2 separate regions of the Homo sapiens genome follow, and region 2 is linked to region 1. Evidence: fine-mapped QTL for protein levels in blood plasma. A gene starts in region 1. The other region holds a variant in brackets. All regions are shown on one strand. Distances are between the middles of the regions.

Region 1 (10,552 bases):
GGGTCCAGTGAAGATGAAACCAACCACTCAGAGCCCCTTGGTGTGTTTGCTTGTATGTGCGTGTGCATGACCACGTGTGTGCCTATGGCTGGATGTGTACATATGTGTACCTGTGTCTCTGGAGCCCCCGGTGTGCAGGCATTCAAGCGTATGCCTGTGTTTATGTCTATGTGTGTGGAGTGAGTTTGTGCCCTCAAGCTCCTGGGGACTTGTTCACACCCTCTTCAGAGGCACTAATCAGAACTTCTGCTGGTCCCATTGAAGACCCCAGGATACGGAACCACCCATCATTCCCAGGAGGCCCCTCTCTCCCTGGGGGCTCCTGAACTCTCCCTGGCCTGCATGATCTATCAGGCCCATGTCAGAAAGGCTGCAAAGTGTGCGAAGGCTGAAGAAATGGGGCAGAGCTTGGGGCTTAATTGAGGCTGTCTGAAAGGGTTTTAGGACAGGCCTGAGGTCAAGGTGAGAACTCAGTCAGGACTGGCATTAGTGCCTGAGACAGGGATAGGCTGAGAAAGGTTGTGCGGTGCAACCGTGAAGGCCCGAACCCTAGAAACCTGAATTTTGCCACTGATTAGCTGTATAACCTTAATTGAGGTATTTCCACTCTCTGAGTCTCAGTTTCCTCATCTGTAAAAATTATAATAGTGGCGTTTCTCTCACATAGGGCTAATTGAAATAATGTATGTAAACTATTTGGCTCTTTGGCACTGAATAAGCGGGGCTGGATTCTGATGGACTGACGGGGACGATGCTGAGGCTGTGGATGGGAAGGTGGCTCCGAGCCTCCTCATTCCACTACATGAAGGGGCAATCTCAAGAGTCTCAAGGATGCCAGTACCACTGCCTTCTGGGTCACTGGGGGCATTAGGCCAAGGGCCAAGGTGGAATCAGGATTCGGGGACAACTTGGTGTTTAGACAATCAGATGGAATGTGGTGGTGGGAGGCTGGCACACTCCACAGGTGCTTTCAGTGTGCCAGGGTCCCCTCTTTGGCCTGAACTCTGTGGCCTGCCTGTCTGCACTATACAGAGCAGAGAGCACACCCTGTCCTGCTAAGCCTGGGTGGGGAGATCTCACTGATGGAAGGGGCCTTGGACACCAGGTGGGGGACATCATAAGGGCTTTGAGGCCAATCTTGGGACTTGGGTGAGGGGGCTGGGCCTACTCAGCCTTGGGGGCTAATGTGGGGAATGTGCAGGCCAGGAGGCCACCTTGGCCACCTTGGAGCCATTGAAGGTGTCTGAGCAGGATCGTGGAGAAGAATAACTGGTTTCTCAGCATGGACGAGAGGACTCCTCTCAGCAGAGAGAAGGTGAGAACAACACGCAGCTGCCTTACCATTCTTGAGAAAGGGAGCTTTCCTGCTGCCACTGGCACTTCTGAAACACAAAGAAGCAAGAATTAGATTATGCCGGCTCTAGACCCCAGGTCTAGGGGTCTGAGGACTGCTTCTGCTTCAGGGAGCTTGGTCCAGCAACTACCCAACCTGGAATTCCTCAAGGAAAGGTGATGAGCCACCAGACAATGGGGCTGCCAGAAAGCTGATGTGATCTTGGGTTCCATAAACAGAGACAGAAATTCAAAAATTAGGAAGGTGACAGTCCAGCCTATTCCTTGTTAGTTAGATCCCACTGGAATTGTTGTGTCCCATATAATAATTATAAAATAGCAATTCAGCAGTTATTATGTGCCGGGCATTGAGAACACATGATTTTAACTCCTCTCCACCCCTATCTTACTGCTGTGTAACAGAGGGAAGAAAGGAGATAGTAGTGGATGCTGTGTTCTGCCATCAAGAGCCCTCGCGCAAGTCTGAGGCACTCATTTCCCCTGCTGCCAGAAATATTGACCACTCACTGCAAGTCTCTTCCTAGGAATTACCCTCAGAGAATGAAGCTGCCTTGCCCAGGGCTGCATCCACTACCCAGGAACAGCCCATATCCCATGTCGGGTTGATGTGGTTACAAAGGGCCTGATCCCCTCGCCCAAAGCTGCCTGTAGGATCATCTGAAGCCTCTGTTGTGCTGCATGGAAGTCAACTTCCCTCATCCTTCATGGATGTTACTCCCATGAACGCTCCCCAGTAAATTGCATGTATAGCTCAGAATCTGTTTCCTGGGGCATAGGTCAGTTTAACGAACTACGAAAGAGGCTCAAAGAGGTGACGCAATGCAGTTTGTTAAGGCAGAGGTAGGATTTTCCCACACGTCTGTTGCAGTCCAGAGCCTGACTCTTTCTACATACACTGGTGTACCCCTCAAGGTCTGGCTGAACTGCTTAAAGGACATGAGCAAACTGTGATGTGACTGACAAGCATGATGGGTGGATGAGGGAACTGGAGCTATGTCTAATGGCACAGGTGGAAGGAAGGGCGTTTATGTAAATTAGAGAAGGGCAGGATGCTCCCTGAAGTCTCTGAAGGGCTATCCTGGGGCTGAGGGAGAGATGGACTCTTTTCAACCTCACAAAGCAGAGCCCATCTCTGTGAGGAGGCTGCAGGGAAGCAGGTTTGGGTTCCATATGAAGCAGAATTTTCTCTCAGTGGGAGCTATGCCACAGTGAAAGAGGCTTTCTCCAGAAGTAGTGAGTTTCCCATCACTGGAGGTGTGCAAGGCAATGTAGTTTTATATTTTCCTGGAGATGCTATTACAGGGTATTTCCACAGAGAGAGGGAAACAGAAACTTAGACTAAGTCACCCCAATGTGCTGTTTAAGCCTGGCATTGGGGTATCAAAATGCAAACCTAGACCTGTCACTGAACTGCTTAAAACCCTTCCATGTCAAATTGCCCAAACTGAAAGTGATCCAAATGTCCTTCAACAGGAGAATGGATAAATAAATACAATGGGGCACTACTGAACAATTAAAACAAGCAACTGATACATGCAATAACGTGGCTGAATCTCAAAAATAGTTTGCTGAGCATAAGAAACCACACACAAAAGATTATATACCCTATGATTCCATTTATGTGAAATCCTAGAACAGGCCAACTAATCTATGATGGAAAAAAATCACATTGGGAAGCTGGGGCAGGAGGATCACTTGAAGCCAGGAGTTTGAGACCAGCCTGGGCAACATAGCAAGACCTCATCTCTACAAAAAATTTAACAATGAGGGCAGGTTGCAGTAGCACACACCTGTAATCCCAGCGCTTTGGGAAGCTGAGGCAGGTGGATCACCTGAAGTCAGGAGTTCGAGACCAGCCTGACCAACATGGTGAAACCCCATATCTACTAAAAATACAAAATTTGCTGGGCGTGGTGGTGCACACCTATAATCCCAGCTATTTAGGAGGCTGTGGCAGGAGAATCACTTGAACCCAGTAGGCAGAGATTGCAGTGAGCCAAGATTGTGCCACTGGACTCCAACCTGGGTGACAGAGCAAAACTCCGTCTCAAAAATAAATAAATAAATAAATAAAAATAAATTTAAAAAAATTTTTAAATTAGCTGAGTGTGGTGGCACGCACCTGTAGTCCCAGCTACTTGTGAGGCTGAGATAGGAGGATCGTTTGAATCCAGGAGGTTGAAGCTGCAGTGAGCTATGATTGCACCACTGCACTCCAGCCTGGGCAACAGAGTGAGACTTTGTCTCTTAAAAAAAAAAAAAAAGTGTCAGAGCACTGGGATGGGGGCAGGGATTGACTGACATAGGGGAATTTCTGGGGCTATGGAAATGTTCTGTATTTATTTTTCTTCCCTAAGTCCTTGTCTCAAGAGGTCCTGTATCTTGATGGGGGTTTGGGTTACACGAGTGTATACATTGTCAAGATTCATCGAGTGATAAGATTTGTGCATTTCTTGATATTTAACTGTTAGGGAAAAGAAAAGCATTTAAAAAATATAAAGCCCTTCCGTGGTTCCCTGTCCTGATCACTAAGCCTCCCTATGGACCTGAGCTGCTTAGTCTTATGTTTAGGGTACTGCGTAAGCTGACCCTAAACTTGCTTCTTGGGCTGACTTCCCAGTACACCTCTCCATGCCCCAGCTATTCCTCTCTGCTCACGGGTCCTAGATTGGGCCCTGCTTTGGCTCATGCCATGTCCCCTCCCTGAAATGTCTTCGTCTCCGTTCTCCTCCCGCCGAATCATACCCTCCTTTCAAGGCTTGATGCTGCCCCCCAGTGAAGCTGTCCTTGACGTCCCCAACAGTTTCCTGAGCAGATCTGGATGGAGGCTTCTTTCACACCACCATGTACTGTCCCACTCACTGGGTCACCCCGCCTCCCTATGCACCTGAGCTCCTTGGGGTTCCTTTATGTCTGCCTTTGCGCAGCACTTGGTTCAATGTCCTACACTGTGGGTGTTCAGGAATTGAATACTAAAGTGCATTGGTGTAATCCCAGCACCTTGGGAAGCCGAGGCGGGCAAATCTTGGGGTTGGAAGTTCGAGACCAGCCTGGCCAACATGGTGAAACTCCGTCTCTACTAAAAATACAAAAATTAGTTGGGTGTGGTGGCATGTGCCTGTAATCCCAGCTACTCAGGAGGCTGAGGCAGGATAATTGCTTCAACCTAGGAGGCAGAGGTTGCAGTGAGCCAAGATCGTGCCACTGCACTCCAGCCTGGGCAACAAAGCAAGACTCTGTCTTGAAAAAAAAATTTTTGTTTAAATAAAAAAAAAAATTAAAGTGTATTGGGAGGAGGGGGTGTTCAGAACTCTAAGATGTCAGAGTTTCTTTCTGGGGGATGTGGGGAAAAGCTACATTTACCCCCAGGCTGCCCTTGACCTTGACCCAAAATGCCCCCTCCTCACTCAGCCCAGGCAGTAGTCTGAAATGTGCAAAAAACAAAAACAAAAACAAACAAACAAAAACCAAACTTCTTCAGAGCAGGCTTTTCAGTGTTCCCAACTGCTCAAGGAGTAGGTAGGTGTAGGTGCCAGGCTGGGCGTAAGCAGGCTGCTCCTGAACAGGTCCCCAGACCCGTTTCCCTTTCCCCCTGTGCCCAGGTCTGTTTCCAGCTGGGGAAATGGGTGTGGGACTGGCCATGAGGTCAGTGGCCCTGGATCCTGCCAGGCGTTGCCTTATAACTTATGGCTTTTGTCCAGGCGGGTCCTAACTGGTCTCCCCGCTTCCCTGTTCAGTTTATTCTCAATGTACCAACCAGAGCAACCCTTGAAAGACATAACTCTCTGCTCAAAGCTTTCAGTGCCTCCCATTTTAGTCAGAGGAAAAGCCAAGTTCTTATGTTGGCCAACAAGGTCTTTCCCGGTACAGTTCCAATTTGCCTCTCTCATCTCCTCTCCTATCACTCCGTACAATGTCCCCTCCTGCCACACTGGTCTTACAGTACCTCAGTCACTCCAGGCATGCCCCTGCCTCAGGTCCTTTGCACCTGAGCTGTTCCCTCTGCCTGGAATCTTCTCCCAGATATCCACATGGCTTAGTCCCTCATCTCCTTCAAGCTTTGCTCAAACATCGGACTCTCAGAGATACCTCCCCTGATTTGAAATTGCAACCCCCTTCCAGTGCCCATCACCCTGCCAAGTATTTTTTCCTTAACTTTTATCAGCTTCTAACATACCGTTTAACATACATTGTAACCATCTTGTTTATTGCCTTTCCCCTTTTCCTCTACCCCATTGGATTTATGCTCCATCAGGACCGTGCTTTTTCTGTTTGGGTCACTAATCTGTCTTAAGGGCTCAGAACAGTGCCTGACATGGTAGCTGTGAGATTGCAGGGATGGCCCAGATCCTGAGAGGGCCCTGCCCCAAGTATATGTGTCCAGTCCTGGGAAAGGGCTCTGTCGTGCTCACATGGCTGCCCAAGTCCCAAACCACAGCCTTTCAGAGAGATCGGGAGCTCAGAAGACCTCGGCCAGGTCTCTCTTAGCATCCACCACCCTGCACCCAGCATACTTGTCAGTCTCTCCTGAGAGCTGGGACCTACCTGCTCCCTTCTGTCCCCACAGCCTCCAGCCCAATAGTTGCTCAGTGCAGCTTTGAACTGGAACAATGCCCTCTTTTACAGCTGGAGAAACTGAGGCCCCAAGAGGGTAGGGGACTTTGGTAATTCTGCGCCAGTCAGGATTTGAACCCAAGTTTCTTTTCTCCCAGCCCAGAACTTTCCCCAGCACAGTGGAGGGTGCATATGCAGAATGAAGGTACATGGAAAAAGCTGAGGCCTCACAGGGTGCTCCAGGCCCTGCTTCTGCTCTCACCCCAAGCTCACCTACCAACACAAAGCCACAGAGAATCCAGGTTCTGCCCACTCACCCCTGTCCACAACAAGGAGGGCAGCCAAGGCCAGGGCGATTACCCACTGGCGGACGGCCATGCTGATCCTGGGATAGTGTAGCCTGAGCTGGCTGGGGCCTGCGCCTGAGGAAGGATGGGGGCCTATTTATAGTGCCGCTCTCCTAATCTTATCTTATCTAGGGCCAGATGGAGAGACCAGAGTTAATCTTTGCACGCTGACATCCGGAAAGGGCTTGCTCTAGGTGCAGATGCTGAGCTTTTGATGAGATGGGGCTGTGGCCATGGGGCTGGCAGGTTTCCAGAGTGACAAAAAGTTTGGACAACTTGCAAAGCTGACTCCAATCTGAGGGTTGGAGCAAGGAGAGGAAAGTTGAAGTAGAAAGAGAGAGAGTTCAAGGCAGAGAGAAGGGGAAAGAGATAGAGAAAGAGAGAAAGGAAAAAAGCAACTGGAAGATGGCAGGAGGCAGAGAAGGGGGCTGGAGCCTGGATTCCTTTGCCAGTGCCTCCAGCAACCAACTCTGGGACCTCGGTAGAGCCACTTTTCTTAACTGGGCCTCAGATCACCCATGCACGAAGTGGAGATGAGACTTTTGGCTCTGCCTTTCTCCCAGGCTGCTGTGAGGATGGCGGCGGTGATAGCAGACGGGAAAACATTTTGCAGAATATGAAATGAGCTGTAAACGTAAGCAGAAATGATCATTTTTACTTACTTTTATTTCACTTATTTTTTTGTACCGCAAAGTGGGCACAACTAACAGGCAAAACAAAGGCAAAATAAAACATTAAAAGGAAGATGCCTTCTTGCTTTGCAGGTATTATGTGTTCATTTGCTTTTTTTTTTTTTGAGACAGAGTCTCACACTGTTGCCCGGGCTGGTGTGCCTGGCGCGATCTCGGCTGGCTGCAACCCCTGCCTCCTGGGTTCAAGCGATTCTCCTGCCTCAGCCTCCTGAGTAGCTAGGATTACAGGCACCTGCCACCTGCCCAGCTAACTTTTTGTATTTTTAGTAGAGACGGGGTTTCACTATGTTGGCCAGGCTGATCTCGAACTCCTGACCTCGTGATCTGCCTGCCTCGGCCTCCCAAAGTGCTGGGATTATAGGCATGAGTCACTGCACGCGGCCTCATCTGTATCTTCATAGGTTAAATAAAGACAAGATTCTTTTAAAGAAAAATCAGTTTCTAAAACTCCCCCATACTTACATAGTATACATTAATAAGTCATTTGGATATTTGCTCTCAAAGAATTTCTGATATATAAAATACATTTTATTTACATACACGTTTCTCTAATTCATTTAGATCAGTGTTTTTCAGCTCTGTCTGCAGATTGGATTTCCCTGGGGGAGAATTTACAAATACAGATGCTGAGCTTCGCTCTGAAATATTTAAATCAGAATCTGTGTTTTTTTTTTTTAAAGAAAAACTTTATTTCGAAAGATTTCAAGCCTGCAGATAAGTTGCAAGAATATTCCAATGACAAGGCGAAGGATTCTTGTTTGAGGACAGCCCCAGCCAGGTGCGGTGGCTCATGCCTGTAATCCTAACACTTGGGAGGCTGAGGCAGGAGGATTGCTTGAGCCCAGAAATTAGAGACCAGCCTGGGCAATATAGCAAGACCCCAACTCTAAAAAAAAATTTTTTTTTTAATTAAAAAAAGAACAGTCCCTTTGGGGACACCAGCCATCCAGTCACCTCTACAGACCCATAGAAGCCCCAGACCTGTGGCCAAGACTAGCTTGAGGCCCCCAGTGATCCTTGACTCAGCTTCAAGATCCTTCCGTTCCTCCTTAGGAAACTGCACAGTCCCAGGGATGCCTCTGAGGCAGGTGGCAGCTATCTTTCCATTGCTTAGGCAGGTAGAGAAAATATTTAATGATGACTTCCTGTCCTAAAGCAAAAACGCCATCTTATAAAAGGGGAATTGGACTTTAAAGGTCATCTTGGGGCCAGGCACCATGGCTCACACCTGTAATCCCAGCACTTTGGGAGGAGGCTGAGGCGGGTGCATTCACTTGAGGTCAGGAGTTCGAGACCAGCCCTGGTCAACATGGTGACACCCATCTCTACCAAAAATACAAAAAATTAGCCAGGCGTGGTGGCGCATACCTGTAATCCCAGCTACTCAGGAGGCTGAGGCAGGAGAATTGCTTGAACCTGGGAGGTGGAGGGTGCAGTGAGCCAAGGTTGTGCCACTGCATTCCAGCCTGGTGACAGAGCGAGAAACTGCCTAAATAAATAAATAAATAAATAAATAAATAAAAATAGGCTTGGTGTGGTGGCTCACGCCTGTAATCCTAGCACTTTGGGAGGCCAAGCTGCATGGATCACCTGAGGTCAGGAGTTCGAGACCAGGCTGGCTGACATGGTGAAACCCCATCTCTACTAAAAATACACACACACACACACACACACACACACACACACACAAATTAGCTGGGTGTGGTGGCGTGTGCCTGTAATCTCAGTTACTTGGGAGGCTGAGGGAGGAGAATTACTTGAACTAGGGAGGCGGAGGTTGAAGTGAGCCGAGATTGCGCCACTGCACTCCAGCCTGGGTGATGGAGCCAGACGGTCTCAAAATAAATAAATAGATACATAAATAAATAAAATAATAAAATAAAAAATAATGGTCATCTGGGTTTCATCTCCCTTCTTCCACTAGGGCTTTCCTACAGCAGCCCCACTGGGAGGTCATTCATGGTGATGGGGAGCTCACTACCTACCAGTTTCGTTGTTGGATGGCTTCGAACAAAGACAGTCCTTCCTCACACAAGAGGTCTGCCTCCCTGAGAGTCCTTGGGGCTTATAGCTTTGTCTCTGGCCTCCTGTACTTGCATGAACCTCCTGTACTTGCACAAGCACCTTTAGGCTGAGCAGGTCTGCCATCTGCCTGCCTCCTACCCTTGCACATGTGAAGCTCCTGGGCCTCTCTCCATTTCTCATCTGATCACTGACAGGTCTGTCTGTCAGTGTCCCAGGTTACAGTGAGGAAGGGACAGAGGGGAGCAAAGGGATTTGATCCCTTCCTTGTTTTGGACCTTAGATTTCTATCCACGTGGCAGAAATGGCTACTGAACATTCTAGTTGCTGCAAGGAGCCAGGACGCTTGAATTTTGCATCCTTCAAAGTACAGAGTAAAGTCAAGGGCAGCCTGTGGAGTACTGAGCTCACTTACCATCCCAGCCCACCCCAAGGTCTCCTCTTCAGACAAATACCTTCTAGATTCACTCATAGTAACAAACTTCGTAATCTGTCATCCCATCAAAGTGTGAACCTAGCTCCTATATCCGACTGCTATTGAACAGCCCATTAAGGATGTCAGTGCATCCAAGAAAACCTCACCATTAATTCACCATTCATGTATTCAGTAAAAGTTTAACAAGCGGCTAAGTGCCATGCTCCATGCTGAGTGCTTGGATATGGCAGAGAGTGAGTCAGATACAGTTCCTGTCCTCCAGGAGCTTTGGTTAAGTAGAGGCACAGTACTGAACGGGCAGCAGCATTGTATCATCACTGCTGGAGTGAGTCCCATGAACCACACATGCTCTGTTCTGTGAGAGGATCCAAGAGTGACCTATCCATCTGAGATCAGAGACGCCAAGGGCTGAGTGGGCAGGGCAGGCTGTAGCCAAGTGGAACAGTGCTGCAGGTAGAGGAAACAGAATGTGTGAGAGCCCTGAGGCAAGAAGAAGCTTCTCACATCTGAAGAACAGAGAAGCCATGTGGGCAAAGTGGGGCCAGGGAGCCGGGGAGGGCCATGACAGGAGTCTGGAATGGTCAGTGGGGGCTAAATAAGCCTTGATCTCTGCTCCCCTGACCCACATCCCAGCAACCTCCGGCAGTGGAATCCCAGGCACTGACCCCTCAGCCTTGTTTGCCTTCCCATGGAGGGTCTAGGTTCTGCTTCCTACATAGCTCTTGAATCCATCCCTGCCCCTCCACACCCCCCACTCTACCCTAGTCCTGGCCACTGTTGTCTCCAACCTGGCCACCTCAATGGTGTCCTGTCTCATATCCCTGGCTCTCCACCTGCCACTCCAAATCACTCTGCACGCAGCGTCCCGGACAAGCGTCCTAAAGAGCAAAGCTGACCAGGTCATCTTGCCCAAAACACTGTAATGGCGTCCACTGCCAACAGGAAGAAGCCCAAACTCCTTAGCCTGGTGACCACACCCCTTCAACATCTGATCCCAACCCATCTTTCCAGCTTCACCTTCACCTTGCCCCACCCTGGACCTGCACTTCTTCAGTTCAACTGAACCCCTTGCACAATTTATTCTGTCTGCTGGCAATGCTGGGTCTCCCTTCTCTATCCCCCTACTCCCATCCTGTGAAACCTAGCTT
Region 2 (12,201 bases), 13 kb after region 1:
GGAGTCCAGTAGAGCCAGAATGGAAAGAACAAGGAAGTCAGTGGCGGGAGGTGAGGGCCTCGTTGTACACTCAGCTCCCAGCCCAGCTACCAGTTTCTTAGGTGAGCTTAGGTGCATCCCTTCCCCTCTTTGGGCCTGCACATGTTCTTCCATCTCCCATGTTGGGTTCACCAATTTGTACCACCAGCAGCCTGACTCCCAGGGCACCTGTGAGGGCCCTGGAGAGGAGAATGTGAGATGAGATGTGTGTAGCTGCTGTGATACCAAGGAAAGGGTTTAAGTGGGGATTCCTGGAGGCAGAGGAGAGGCCAAGACCTAAATGCCCTGGGCACCTGCACAGGTCCTGGAATCAATACAATCAGGACACAGATGACCTAAAACAGGGCTCAGGCAGGAAAGCTGGGCAATTCCTGCATCTTCTGCCCCAGGTCAGAGTGAAAACCTGGGTCCTGTGCCTTGGCTGGGCCAACACTCCCCAGCCTCACCCAGCAGCCTTCATGCCATCTGCTTAGATTGGCCTGGTGCCCAGCTCCTTGAGGTAAACAGCCACTCCTTGATGACGGCAATGCTGGATCCATCAGGTCTGAGTCATGGGTTCTGCTGATGGGTGGTGGGGACAGAGGCCTTGTTTAGCTTAAGGTGGGGGAGCTGAGCTCCAGCAGAGCTTGGGTCTGCCAGATGGCATGGCCAGCATGGCCAGTTTGCCCTGGGACCACCTTCCCTGGCCTCCAGCTCACATCCTGCTCCACCCTTCCTCCAGCCCAAAGTGCCCCCACCTGCCTGGAAACCTGTGTGAGCTACCCAGGTGTGGGCATCCCCTCCAGGGAGACCTGGTCTGGACTGAGCCAGCTCCACAGCCTGTCCTGGGCCCCTCAGCCACCCAACTCTATGTCCCAGGTCTAGAGCCCACCTGCCCATTCCACTTGGTCCAGAGCTGTAGGGGGCAGGCAATGGGAGGACACTACTTTAAGGAGAGGTTTCATCTACTTTTTTGGGATTTGACTCCAAGGAATGCTCAGTGATGAAATGAGCTGAAGTCATCCCTCCATGGGGGCATCCACTCTACCATTCAATGGACACTTATTGAGCACCTGTTGTGGGGCACCAATCACTATGCCAGTCCCTGGGACTCCAGAGATGAGTGAGACTTGGACTCAAGGAGCTTGCAGTTCACCAGTGGTGGAGAGGTGGAATGGACTCTTGAGCAGGAATCTATAAAATGCTGTGGTGAGAGCTGTGATAGAAATAGAGATATTCCTTCCACCCCATTATCCTATGGACCCCCTTCTCAATATGTCCAAAAGTCAACTTTCCATCTTCTGTCCACCCAGAGCTGCCCTACCTCCCAGTTCCCCCACCTGGGTGGACAGCACCACCATCACCCCACTGCCTTAGGCTAATCTGGGGACCATCCTGAGCTTCTCCTTCACCTCTACATTCCAGGAACCAGGTCTTACTGATTTCACCTCCTCACCACCTCTCATATCCATCACCTCCTCTATATTTCCCCTAGTTCAGCCTCTGCGATCTCTCACCTTCATTACTCATGCTGTTTCCCTGCCTCCAGTCTCACCTCCTCCAATCCATTCTGCTTCCAGAGCCATCTTTCTGAATGCAAAAATGACCACATCATCCCTCTGCCTAATATTATTCAATTACAGATAGTCAATTCAACTAAAGTTACTCAATCACAATGACTCAAGCATGAAAACCAAGCTCCTTGGTTTGTATGACATAAAAGTTCCGCCACGACTGGTCCTCTGTTGGCCTCTCTAACTTCACCTCTGGCCACTTGAGCCTTCACCCCATCCGATAGAACCACCTGCAGGCTTTTACGCCTCCAAGCCTTTTCTTATGCTGTTCTTCCTGATTGGCGTGCCCCTCTATTACCTCCCCTTGGGCTCTCCTCTCAGACCCTCAGCCCACTCCAGTTTGGGGACCATGTTTGCACAGACATCTATCCCAGCAGCAGCTGTAATGTTTCATGACCTTATCTTGCCTATGTGACTATCTCTCATATTTCCTTAAAGAGAGGAACAGGGGGACATTTAAGTCACTTCATATCCCCAGTGCTCTGCCCAGGGCCTGGCATGTGTGTGTTGACTATTTGAATCCATCCTGCACTGGATGAAGTCTCAGGACAGTAAGGATGCCAGCTTCAGATGCTTGGTCTGCTGGACTGAGGGCTTGAGGAAGCTCTGAGGACAAGCTGGACTCTAGTGGGTCCACTGGGTCCAGCCAGTGACATCCTATGCTGTGTCCATATAGGTGGGAACAGAGGTGGCACTCTATTTCAAGGACCACATTTTCTACTAGCTCTTAGCCAACCTGGCTGGGGACCTAAGAACTTAGTATCTCCTCTAAGACCTGAGTGTGGTGCTTTGTCTCCATAAGCTACCCCAAGACCATCTGCTGAACTCACAGGAAACAGTTTCAGTGCCTATCTTCTCTCCTGGTGCATGGACTCTTGGCTTGATCACCTCCAACCATAAGGGATTATCATACAGACCCATCGAGGAGTGGGGCTGCTCAAGAGACCTGGTGTTCTGGGACCTTGTGCCATCCAAACATTTCCATTCATGGACATAACCAGTGGCTCAAGTCCTCTGAGCATACATACAAAAGAGCTTAGAACAAAGTCTCTTGATACCCCCTTCCGTTCCAGAGCTCTGATGGCCTTCAGAAAAATCAGATTATCACAGCCTGGTGCAACATGTCACAACTCCAGACCACTATGAATTTTGATAGGGTCCTTGGGTTGCAAGCAACAGAAGTAGATTTTGGCAAACCTCAGCAGAATAATAATTTTCCAGAAGGATGTGGTATTGTCTTAGGTTGGACTCAGGGGCAGACCATGAGAAAAGCACATTAGATTCCAAATCATTTTCTGGGAGGCAATCCCACGAAACACCTGCAGGAGAGTGGGAATAAGGAAGGCAGGGAAGGGAACTAATAATGTATGCATCGCTGAGGTTACCACTGGGGAAACTGGGCCTCAATCCAACCAGGGATGGCTGGGACACTGTGTGGCACACATGGCAGAGTTATCCCCACTGAGAGGTGAAGGAATTGGGGTATATATCCAGCAACTCCCAACAGTCGCTGATTGAGGGCTGCTGGAAGAGAGACCATTAACTCCCTGGCACTATCGGCTAGCTCCTTTCATGTCTCTGGGCTCCTAGAGAAAGCCTCCGGGCAAAGGATTGCAAGGGTTGCACAGGGAGGCCGCAGGTATGCACAAGAATGGGGAGTGGTAAACAGTGTGGGTGGGACACTGACAGTGCCTGCTACCACAGCTGCACAAAAAACTAGGTGACAAGCTGAAAAAACTATGCCCCAAAAGAACTGGGCTCAAAAAACCTAGAGTTATGTGTCCACATTCCGTTTTTTTGGTTTTTGTTTTAGAGACAAGGTCTTGCTCTGTTGCCCAGGCTGGAGTGCAGTGGTGAGATCACGGCTCACTGCAGCCTTGACCTTCCTGGCTTAAGCGATCTTCTCTCCTCAGCCTCCCAAGTAGCTGGAACCACAGGTATGCATCACCATGCCCAGCTAATTTTTTATTTTTATTTTGTAGAGACAGGGTCTTCTTATGTCGCCCAGGCTGTTCTCGAGCTCCTGGGCTCAAGTGATCCTCCCAAAGTGCTGGCATTATAGATGTGAGCACTGTGCCCAGCCCATGTCTACTTTCTGACCAGGGAAGGGAAGGCATTTTTATGGACAGTCCCTTATTTGTATCCAATGAAGGTAAGTAGGTCTCCAAAGAAAACCTGGGATTCTATTACCGAAAGGAGGAATGTTGCTGGTCAGACAAAAGCCACAGATGTTACTAAACCTTCCCCACATGCTTACTTTGTTTTGTTTTGTTTTGAGACAGAGTTTTGCTCTGTTGCACAGGCTGGAGTGCAGTGGCACGATCTCAGCTCACTGCAACCTCCGCCTCCCGGGTTCAAGGGATTCTCCCACCTCAGCCTCCCGAGTAGCTGGGATTATAGACGCGCACCACCACACCCAGCTAATTTTTGTATTTTAAGTAGAGACAGGGTTTCACCATGGCCACATGCTGATCTTTCACTTGTACGATGAATTCGCTCACAAGAGCCCAGGGCTTCATAAAGCTGGCCCAACAAGGGCCTCCTGATGGCTCCTGGACACAGGGGTGCCGTTGTCCAGAGTAACAGCTCCCAGACTCATGTTGGAGTCCTGAGTGCTGCCTCCCTTCTGGGCTGTGCCAGGGGTGGGCCAGGAGGCAGCCATGCCATCAGAACCTGGGCTCTGGAGTCTGGACACCTTGTCTGTGTGACCTTGGGTGTGTCATTGCACCTCTGAGCCTCAGTTGCTCACCTGTAATCAGGGCTACTTCATGTGGTTGTGTGGAATGTGTTCTGTTCATCTCCAGGGGGTGCCATTCCCCTTAGATTCCATGGGCCCTGTAGTGTGCACTTAACTGGAGTGGGGGCAGGTAAGGTATCCAGCAGCAAAGTTCAGAGGCCATGCAACCTGCCCAAAGGATCCTGGGGTGTGCTGGGGAGAACCAGAGTTTTGTTCACAATCTCCCACTCTCATACTTTTCTTTGGGGGGGCTGTCATCATGCTCTCCCACTTATAGACAGGCTTACTGTTTGCTATTAGGGATGGGGAGGTATGGCTGCAGACCGCTTTTCCCAACTTTGTGAACTAAAGGAACAGAAGGGACTTTTCTCCTCTCCCCACAGCCTCCTTCAGTGTATAAAAACCCAAGAGGAGACTCTGATTGGGTTGGGTAAGTCATGTGCTCATCTCTTGAACCAATCAATGTGGCCTGGAAATTGGGCATCTGTGATGGGCCGGGCTGAGGTCACATGTACCCTATTGTTGCCAAAGGAACAGGATAAAATGATTAGCGATTTTGGAGCCTGGCAAATGGCACAGCCTCAGAGCCCAAAAGGCTAAAGTCTTCAGTCGGTTCCAGGAGCCCTGGAAATTCTTTCCTTTTCATGATGTTTCTTTTCCATATCCAAGGTGGCCCTGGTTGGTACCCACCCTCTTAAGGCAGACTCTCTTCCAGGCAGGTGCTTTCAACATGCCCATGGGCACTGGTCCAAGGCAGGCAAGGGAGAGGTCTAGTTCTCATGCTCAAAGGCGCCCAGTAAATATTTGAGGTGAGTCAGTGCGTTGACAGGTGAGGCCTCAGGGCTTGTCTGCCCCTCCCTGGTGATTGTCTCCACCTGACCCTCAAGCTGCCCGAAGAT[C/G]TCTGCTGCCCTCTCCCTGTGGTGGGTGTGATCTGGGCATGGTCCCCTGCCCAGGGTCTCCTGCCCACCTCTTTCTTCCCAGCCTCGAGGAGGGGTCCTTAGATCCGCACAAGGAGTTCCCCCTCTTAGCCTCTTAACCTGGCCTTATAATTCTATCTATTTTACAGACGAGAAAATTAAGGCTCAGAAAGATTAAATGACAAGTTCGAAGTTTCCAGCATTGTAAGTGGCAGAGCCGGCATTCAAAACAATATCTGATTTTAAATCTCAGACTCTTACCAGATTCCTCTGCCCACCATAGATTCTGGTTTTAAATACATACACCCAGAAGCCCATCCTGGCCCAGTAACTGAAATAGCAGGAGCTGAAAGAGCCGCACAATTTGAAGTGAGTTTCGTGGAAAATTCTGTGGTCCAGCCTTGGCAGGAAGTTGCCAAAATAGTCGAGTGTGGACCACAGGTGGAACCTCCTTGCATCTGGGCCCAGCTAAGGTCTAGAGGTCCCTGAATATAGACCCTCTCCAAAAGGCAGTCATTCCAGGGGGTCCAGGCAGAAGGTGGGAGGAGCTGCCACACATGCCCCACGGCACTTATAGGTTCAGCAGGCAGGACCCATGTGACCCCAGCTTGGCATCTTCCCAGACACAGCCACTGGCAGTATCTATGACCAGGCTGAATTTAGACACGGGGTCCAAAATACTGCTACTCATCCCACCACCGACCCCAGCAACCTGCACCCTCCTCACCAACATTCACATAGTACCTGTGCTGTCCTCGGCATTGTTCAGAGGGTACACTGCTCCCTTTGCAGAACCTCTCCTGTCTGGCCCTCAAGGCCAACCTCCCCCTCCCTTTATGGTGAATGGGGTATGGGCATGGAGTCTCCTGCCGTCTCTCCTCTTCCCTCCCAGATTTGAAAAGAAGTCTTTGGACTCTCACCAGGATATGTGATATCCTGATATGTCCAGCCTTAGGGTCTTCTGCTGTCCCTTTCTGAGAATCTGTGCTTGCTGGGAACCCAGGACAGCTCCAAGGACAGGAAGGACTGAAGGAAGGGGCAGTGTGGTTTGGAGAAAGATCCCAGATTCAGGAATACGACAGAACCGGGTTTGAACCCTCATTTGGCCACTCACTCACTGTGATAGGCAGACCGATGCTCCCATCCCCCCAAATACCTACCTCCTTATCCCCCAAACCTGTGAATATGTTACCTCACATGACAAAAGGGATTCTGCATCTGTGATCAAAGGAAGGATCCTGAAATGGGGAGGTTATCCTGGGTTACCTGGGTGAGCTTGGGCCATAAAGTTCTCATAAGAGGGAGGAGGGAGAGTCAAAGAAGGAGCTGTGATGATGAAAGCAGAGTGGGGGGTGATGCAGGCCTGGATCCCAGGGTTAGAGGCAGCCTTAAGAAGCTGGCAAGGGCAAGGGACGTTTTCTCCCGTAGGGCCCCCAGAGGGAGAGCAAGCCTGTGCCCCATTTCTGACTCTGACCCCCGAGTGGAACAGAATGCATTGATGTTGTTTGAAGCCTCTGCGTTTGTGGTAATTTGTGACTGCAGCCATGGGGTGTGAATCCACAAGTTCTGTGACCTCAAGCAAATTCCTTAACCGGAGAGCCCACATTCCCTCATGGGGTGAGGGTGCCGTGGCTCATGCCTATAATCCCAGCATTTTTGGGAGGCTGAAGTGAGAGGATTGCTCGATCCCAGGAGTTTGTGATCAGCCTGGGCAATATAGCGAGATCTCGTCTTGACAAAAAATTGTAAAATTAGCCAGGCATGGTAGCACACGCCTCTAGTCCCAGGTATTTGGGTGGCTGAGGTGGGAGGATCGATTGAGCCTGGAGGTGGAGGCTGCAGTTAGCACCACTGCACTTCTGCCTGGCCTACAGAGTGAGACCCTGTCTCAAAAATGACAACAACAACAATAATAACGCCTACCTTGAAGTGTTGTATTAAAAAGTATATATTAGGGCTGGGTGCGGTGGCTCACACCTGTAATCTTAGCACTTTGGGAGGCCAAGGCGGGCATATCACTTGAGGTCAGGAGTTCGAAACCAGCCTAGCCAACATGGTGAAACCTCGTCTCTACTAAAAATACAAAAAAACATTAGCCTGGCATGGTGGCGGGTGCCTGTAATCCCAGCTACTCAGGAGGCTGAGGCAGGAGAATCGCTTGAACTCCGGAAGGGGAGGTTGCAGTGAGCTGAGATTGCGTCACCGCGCTCTAGCCTCGGTGACAGAGTAAGACTCTGTCTCCAAAAAAAAAAAAATTAAACGCCTGGCTCATAACAAAACTTAATACATGATGCCGTTATGAAAAGGAGGAAGAGAGAGGTGAGGAGAAACAGAAAGAGGAAGAGGGAAGAGAGAAGTTGGGTGGTGAAGCTACAGCCAGCCCCATGTTCTGGGCAGCTCCAGGCAATGCGGGGCCCATGGAAACCTGCCCATCTCTTCACCTGGCTTTCATTCATTTTGACTTCAGGACACTCTTATTCTCCTTAGAAGGGTCAGGGCCAACCTCTACTAATAGACCCCTATGAAAGCTTTCCCTACTGAATGAAGAACTGCAGTAAAAAACAGGTATAAGAGCCTGCCCCAGTATACGCCTCTGGCACTCCTGTGGCTCCACGCCACCAATGCACAGCAGCAGATTTGTCTTTCCGCCTTTTTAACTTTCCAGGCTTGACCAACAGTAGCCTATGCAGAAATGTGCAAGTCACAAGCTGAATCCTTCTTTTGTGAAGGAATTGAGCTGGTGACCTGAGAGAGCTGGGGTGTGTGTGTGTGTGTGTGTGTGTGTGTGTGTGTGTGTGATTTCCAATTGCCTCCAATTTCTCCACATTCTCAACATTTTAACATTCTAGTGAGTGTAAAGTGATATCTCATTGTGGTTTTAGCTTGCATTTTCCTGAAAACTAATAATGGTGGGCACTTTTTCCTGTACTATATAGCTACTTATATATCTCCGAATGTTGATTCACGACTTTTTGCCTATTTAGATAAGCTGGGTTGTTCATCTTTTTATTGCTGATACAAATACATTGTTGGTGGATGTGTAAAATGATACAACTTATTTGGAGAATTGTTTTTCGCAATTAAAAAAATTACACATCTATCCATGCTATGACCTTGCAATTCCATCCACAGTAAATAAAAAGCATATGTCTACACAAAGCCTTATTCGTAAATATTCATAGAAGCTTTATTTGTATTAGGCAATAAGTGGAAATGATCCAAATGTCAGTCAGTTGGTGCACAGATAGACCAACTGGAATACAGCTATGCAATAGAATACCACCTGGCAATAAAAGTGAATTAACTATTGATACGTGCTACAACATGACTGAATCGCTAAAACATTATGATTCCTGAAAGAAGGCAAACACAAAAGAGTATGCACTGTATAATTCTGTATAATTCCACATATGTAAGTTCTACAACAGGGGAAGCTAATTGTGGTGACAGAGGCGGATCAGTTGTTGCTTTCAGGGTAGGGCATGGGGAGAGTAGGAGGGAACCTTCTGGGGCAGTGGAAATACCGTATATATTATTTAGAGTAGGGATTACACTGGGGTATACAGTTGTCGAAAAATCATCAAATGAAGATCTGTGCATTTCATTGTATGTAAATGTTATCTTGTTAAAAACAAAACTGAATTATGCCACAAATTTGAAGTGCTACCACCAGGTGGCACTGATGCGTAATTTCCAAGAGTTCAACTGTAAAGTTTATGCAGTGACTAAGACTCATAAATCATTCTATTTGCAAGTGTTCTCAAAAGCATGTGGCATTGTTTTGTGGGTATTTTTCATTTCAAAAAATAATATTGTGCTGGAGGCCTCCTTCTGTTCCTTTCTTCTTTTTTCCCCCATTCAGCATTGTGGAGTTTTGGCGTTTTTTGCTCTTGTTTATTTGTTTTTTGTAGAGACAGGGTCTCACCATCTTGCTCAGGCTGGTTTCATACTCCTGGGCTCAAGCAACCCTTCTGTCTCAGCCTCCCAAAGTGTTGGGATTACAGGCTTGAGCCACTGCAACTGGACAGAACCATGTTTTAAAGATTTCTTGACCTTTTGTGTGTATCTAATTCATTGCTTGTTACTGTGGTAGAATATTCTGTAGTGTGCTTATGTCACATTTTACTTACATTCATTTCCCCAATGATGAATGCCTCATTGCATCCAGCTCTCCAGCCATCACAAATAACTTGGTGATAAAATATCCTCTTATGGCCAGGCACAGTAGTTCACGCCTATAATCCACCCCCCCCAGACTTTGGAAGGCCGAGGCGGGTGAATCACCTGAGGTCGGGAGTTCGAGACCAGCCTGACCAACATGGAGAAACCCTGTCTCTACTAAAAACACAAAATTAGCCGGGCATGGTGGTGCATACCTATAATCTCAGCTACTTGGGAGGTTGAGGCAGGAGAATCGCTTGAACCCACGAGGTGGAGGTTGCGGTGAGCCGAGATCGCACCATTGCACTTCAGCCTGGGCAACAAGAGCGAAACTTTGTCTCAAAAAAAAAAAAAAATCCTCTTACATGTCTCTTTATGGAGTTGTGTGAGAATCTCTTTAATTATATAGCCAGTAGTGGGATCCTCCCCATCCCTACTCATAATATTTATTTATTTGTAGCATTTTATCCCCTTCTACTTAATACATTTCCTCCAGAATTGGTCATTATCTTGGGTGAAATAAGCCAGTCCCAAAAAGACAAACGTAGCATGTTCTCACATATGTGGGAGCCAAAAAAAATGTGATTACATTGAGGTAAAGAGAGGAAATACGGAGAACAGAGACTGAGAAGAATGAATGGAAGAGATGGGGAAGGATGAAGAGAAGTGGGTTAAAGTGTACAAACAGTTAGATAGAAGGAATACATTCATTGCTTGATAGCAGAGTAGGGTGACTATAGTTAAACAAAAATGTACTGTACTTGGGTGATGGACAGCCTAAATACCTTGACTTGATCACTATGCATTATATATATATGTAACGAGATTTCACATGTACCCCATAAATTTTTACAATTTTTACAAATAAAAAGATGCATCATAAAAAATTTCCTTCAAAATCTTCATGCTAAAAGTTATTAAGTATATTTAAGCAATGTCCTAAACTTTTAAATTAAAGGGAATATTTGCTGTGAATCCTTTTACTTCTCTCTTTGCAAAATAGCAAGTGTTGTTTGAGATGTGTTTTAAATTTACAAAATAGTATTGCTGACTAAGATTTGGATGTCCTTTTTTTTTTTTTTTTCATTCTCAAAGGAGGTGACCAAATTGTTAATCTGGATTTTTTTATACTGAATAAATTTCTCTCAATTTTTTTGTGGTATAGCAACTGAATTTGTGCACCATTGTAAATTGTAAATTAAAGCTGATATTTAAAAACAACTTTTAAGGCAAAGTTTCTCAATGGTGACACTACTGACATTTGGGACCTAATAATTCTTTGTTGTAAGGGGCTGCCCTGTGCCTTGTAGGAGGTTTGGCAGCATCTCTGGCTACTACCCACTAGATGCCAGTAGCACCTCTTTTCAGTTGTGACAACCAAAAATGTCCCCAGACCTTGTCAAATGTCCAATGGGAGACCAAAATTCACTCCAGCTGAGAATGACTGTTTTAAGATAAATGAAGTCTGGGATTCACTGGGGTCTTTTTCTAGATGTTTCCTTTCTTTTAATCAGTTCATTTCAATCCCAATCTCGGCTATAGACTTGTATTACATGGCCCTTTAAAAAAACATCCTCCCCTGCTTTCTAGCTGGAATAAAGCTCCTCCTGGAGACACTTTATCTCCAGATACTTTCTGGAGTCCTTTGTCTTTTAGCAGACTGAGCATCAACAGGCTTCCATGTTCGCTTCTCTCTAGGTTTCCTAACCTCCCCCTCTCAGCCACTGCAGAGGTCAGAGGAGGAAGACAGAGTCAGAATTTCTCCTGTGCTCCCCTCCCAGAGGAACCCAGAAGAGCAGAGAGAGCCCCACAGCAGTGTGATAAGAACTCCAAAGAAGTGGGGCGTGGTGGCTCATACCTGTAATCCCAGCACTTTGGGAAGCCGAGGCAGGCAGATCACCAGAGGTTGAGAGTTTGAGACCAGCCTGGCCAACACGGTGAAACCCCGTCTCTACTAAAAACACAAATTAGCCGGGCGTGGTGGCGGGCTACTTGGGAGGCTGAGGCAGGAGAATTGCTTGAACCCGGGAGGCGGAGGTTGCAGTGAGCCGAGATCGTGTCATTGCACTCCAGCCTGGGTGACAGAGCGAGACTCCATCTTAAAAACAAACAAACGAACAACCACCACCCCCCAAACAAAACAAAATCTCAAAAACAAACAAACAAAAAACCCCCAAAACAAAACAAAACAAAACTCCAAAGTGGGACGACTCAGTCTGTGAAAGAAACATCCTCCTCTGCTTTTCAGTTCTGACATCCCTCTCCCCTCATCAAGTGTCTATTAATTCTCTAGACCTTTGTAACTTAATTATCTCCAAGACTCGAGTGAACACTAGAGTGCTCACTGTGCCCCTCACCTCTGTTCCTCGGCATCCTAGCCCCGCAAGGTGCTTCTCAAGAGGTATTCTCTATGGTCAACGAAGTGAGCGAAATGCTGCTCACTGGATCTCTCTCTGGGACACTGGCACTGACCACTAGTTTATTAAAGGCTGTGAGAAGCTTTTCAGGAGTCTATTTTTCATCCAGCATTTCTTGGATTAAGTGATTACAAAAGCTTCCCACTTCCCCCACCACATTTAACAAATATCTGTTAACATCCCTCTGAATTGGTGTCAGAATTGGTGTCCCAGGGAACACGGTTTAGGAAATGTCTTAAATATTAACAACCTTCCAGCCTGGCCAACATGGGGAAATCCCGTCTCTACTAAAAATACAAAAAAATTAGCCAGGCATGGTGGTGCGTGCCTGTAGTCCCAGCTACTCAGGAGGCTGAGGCAGAAGAATTGCTTGAACC

Which allele goes with the higher level. Alleles are on the strand shown, and positions count from the first base shown. The strength of an association depends on the size of the effect and on how common the allele is.
With allele C in place of G in region 2, the plasma level of the protein whose gene starts at base 6,327 in region 1 is lower (weak association).

The links. PIP is the chance, under the fine-mapping model, that this variant and not a neighbour inherited with it causes the effect. Protein levels are from antibody-based Olink assays in UK Biobank. Linkage for the fine-mapping came from a reference panel and not from the study's own genotypes, which makes the PIPs less certain.
Region 2: its variant is fine-mapped to the plasma level of the SPINK4 protein (UK Biobank, PIP above 0.99).

What each region holds. Positions count from the first base shown.
Region 1 is chr9:33,235,942-33,246,493 of GRCh38, reverse strand. It overlaps SPINK4 (serine peptidase inhibitor Kazal type 4), which reads right to left and starts at 6,327. Exons shown (of 4, transcript NM_014471.3): 1 at 6,225-6,327; 2 at 1,342-1,382. The coding sequence starts at 6,285.
Region 2 is chr9:33,222,511-33,234,711 of GRCh38, reverse strand. No RefSeq gene overlaps it. Among named protein-coding and RNA genes, the nearest start is that of SPINK4, 12 kb to the left of the region's middle. RefSeq lists enhancers at 110-1,309, 7,447-7,616. The variant C/G (reference allele first, on the strand shown) is at 5,229.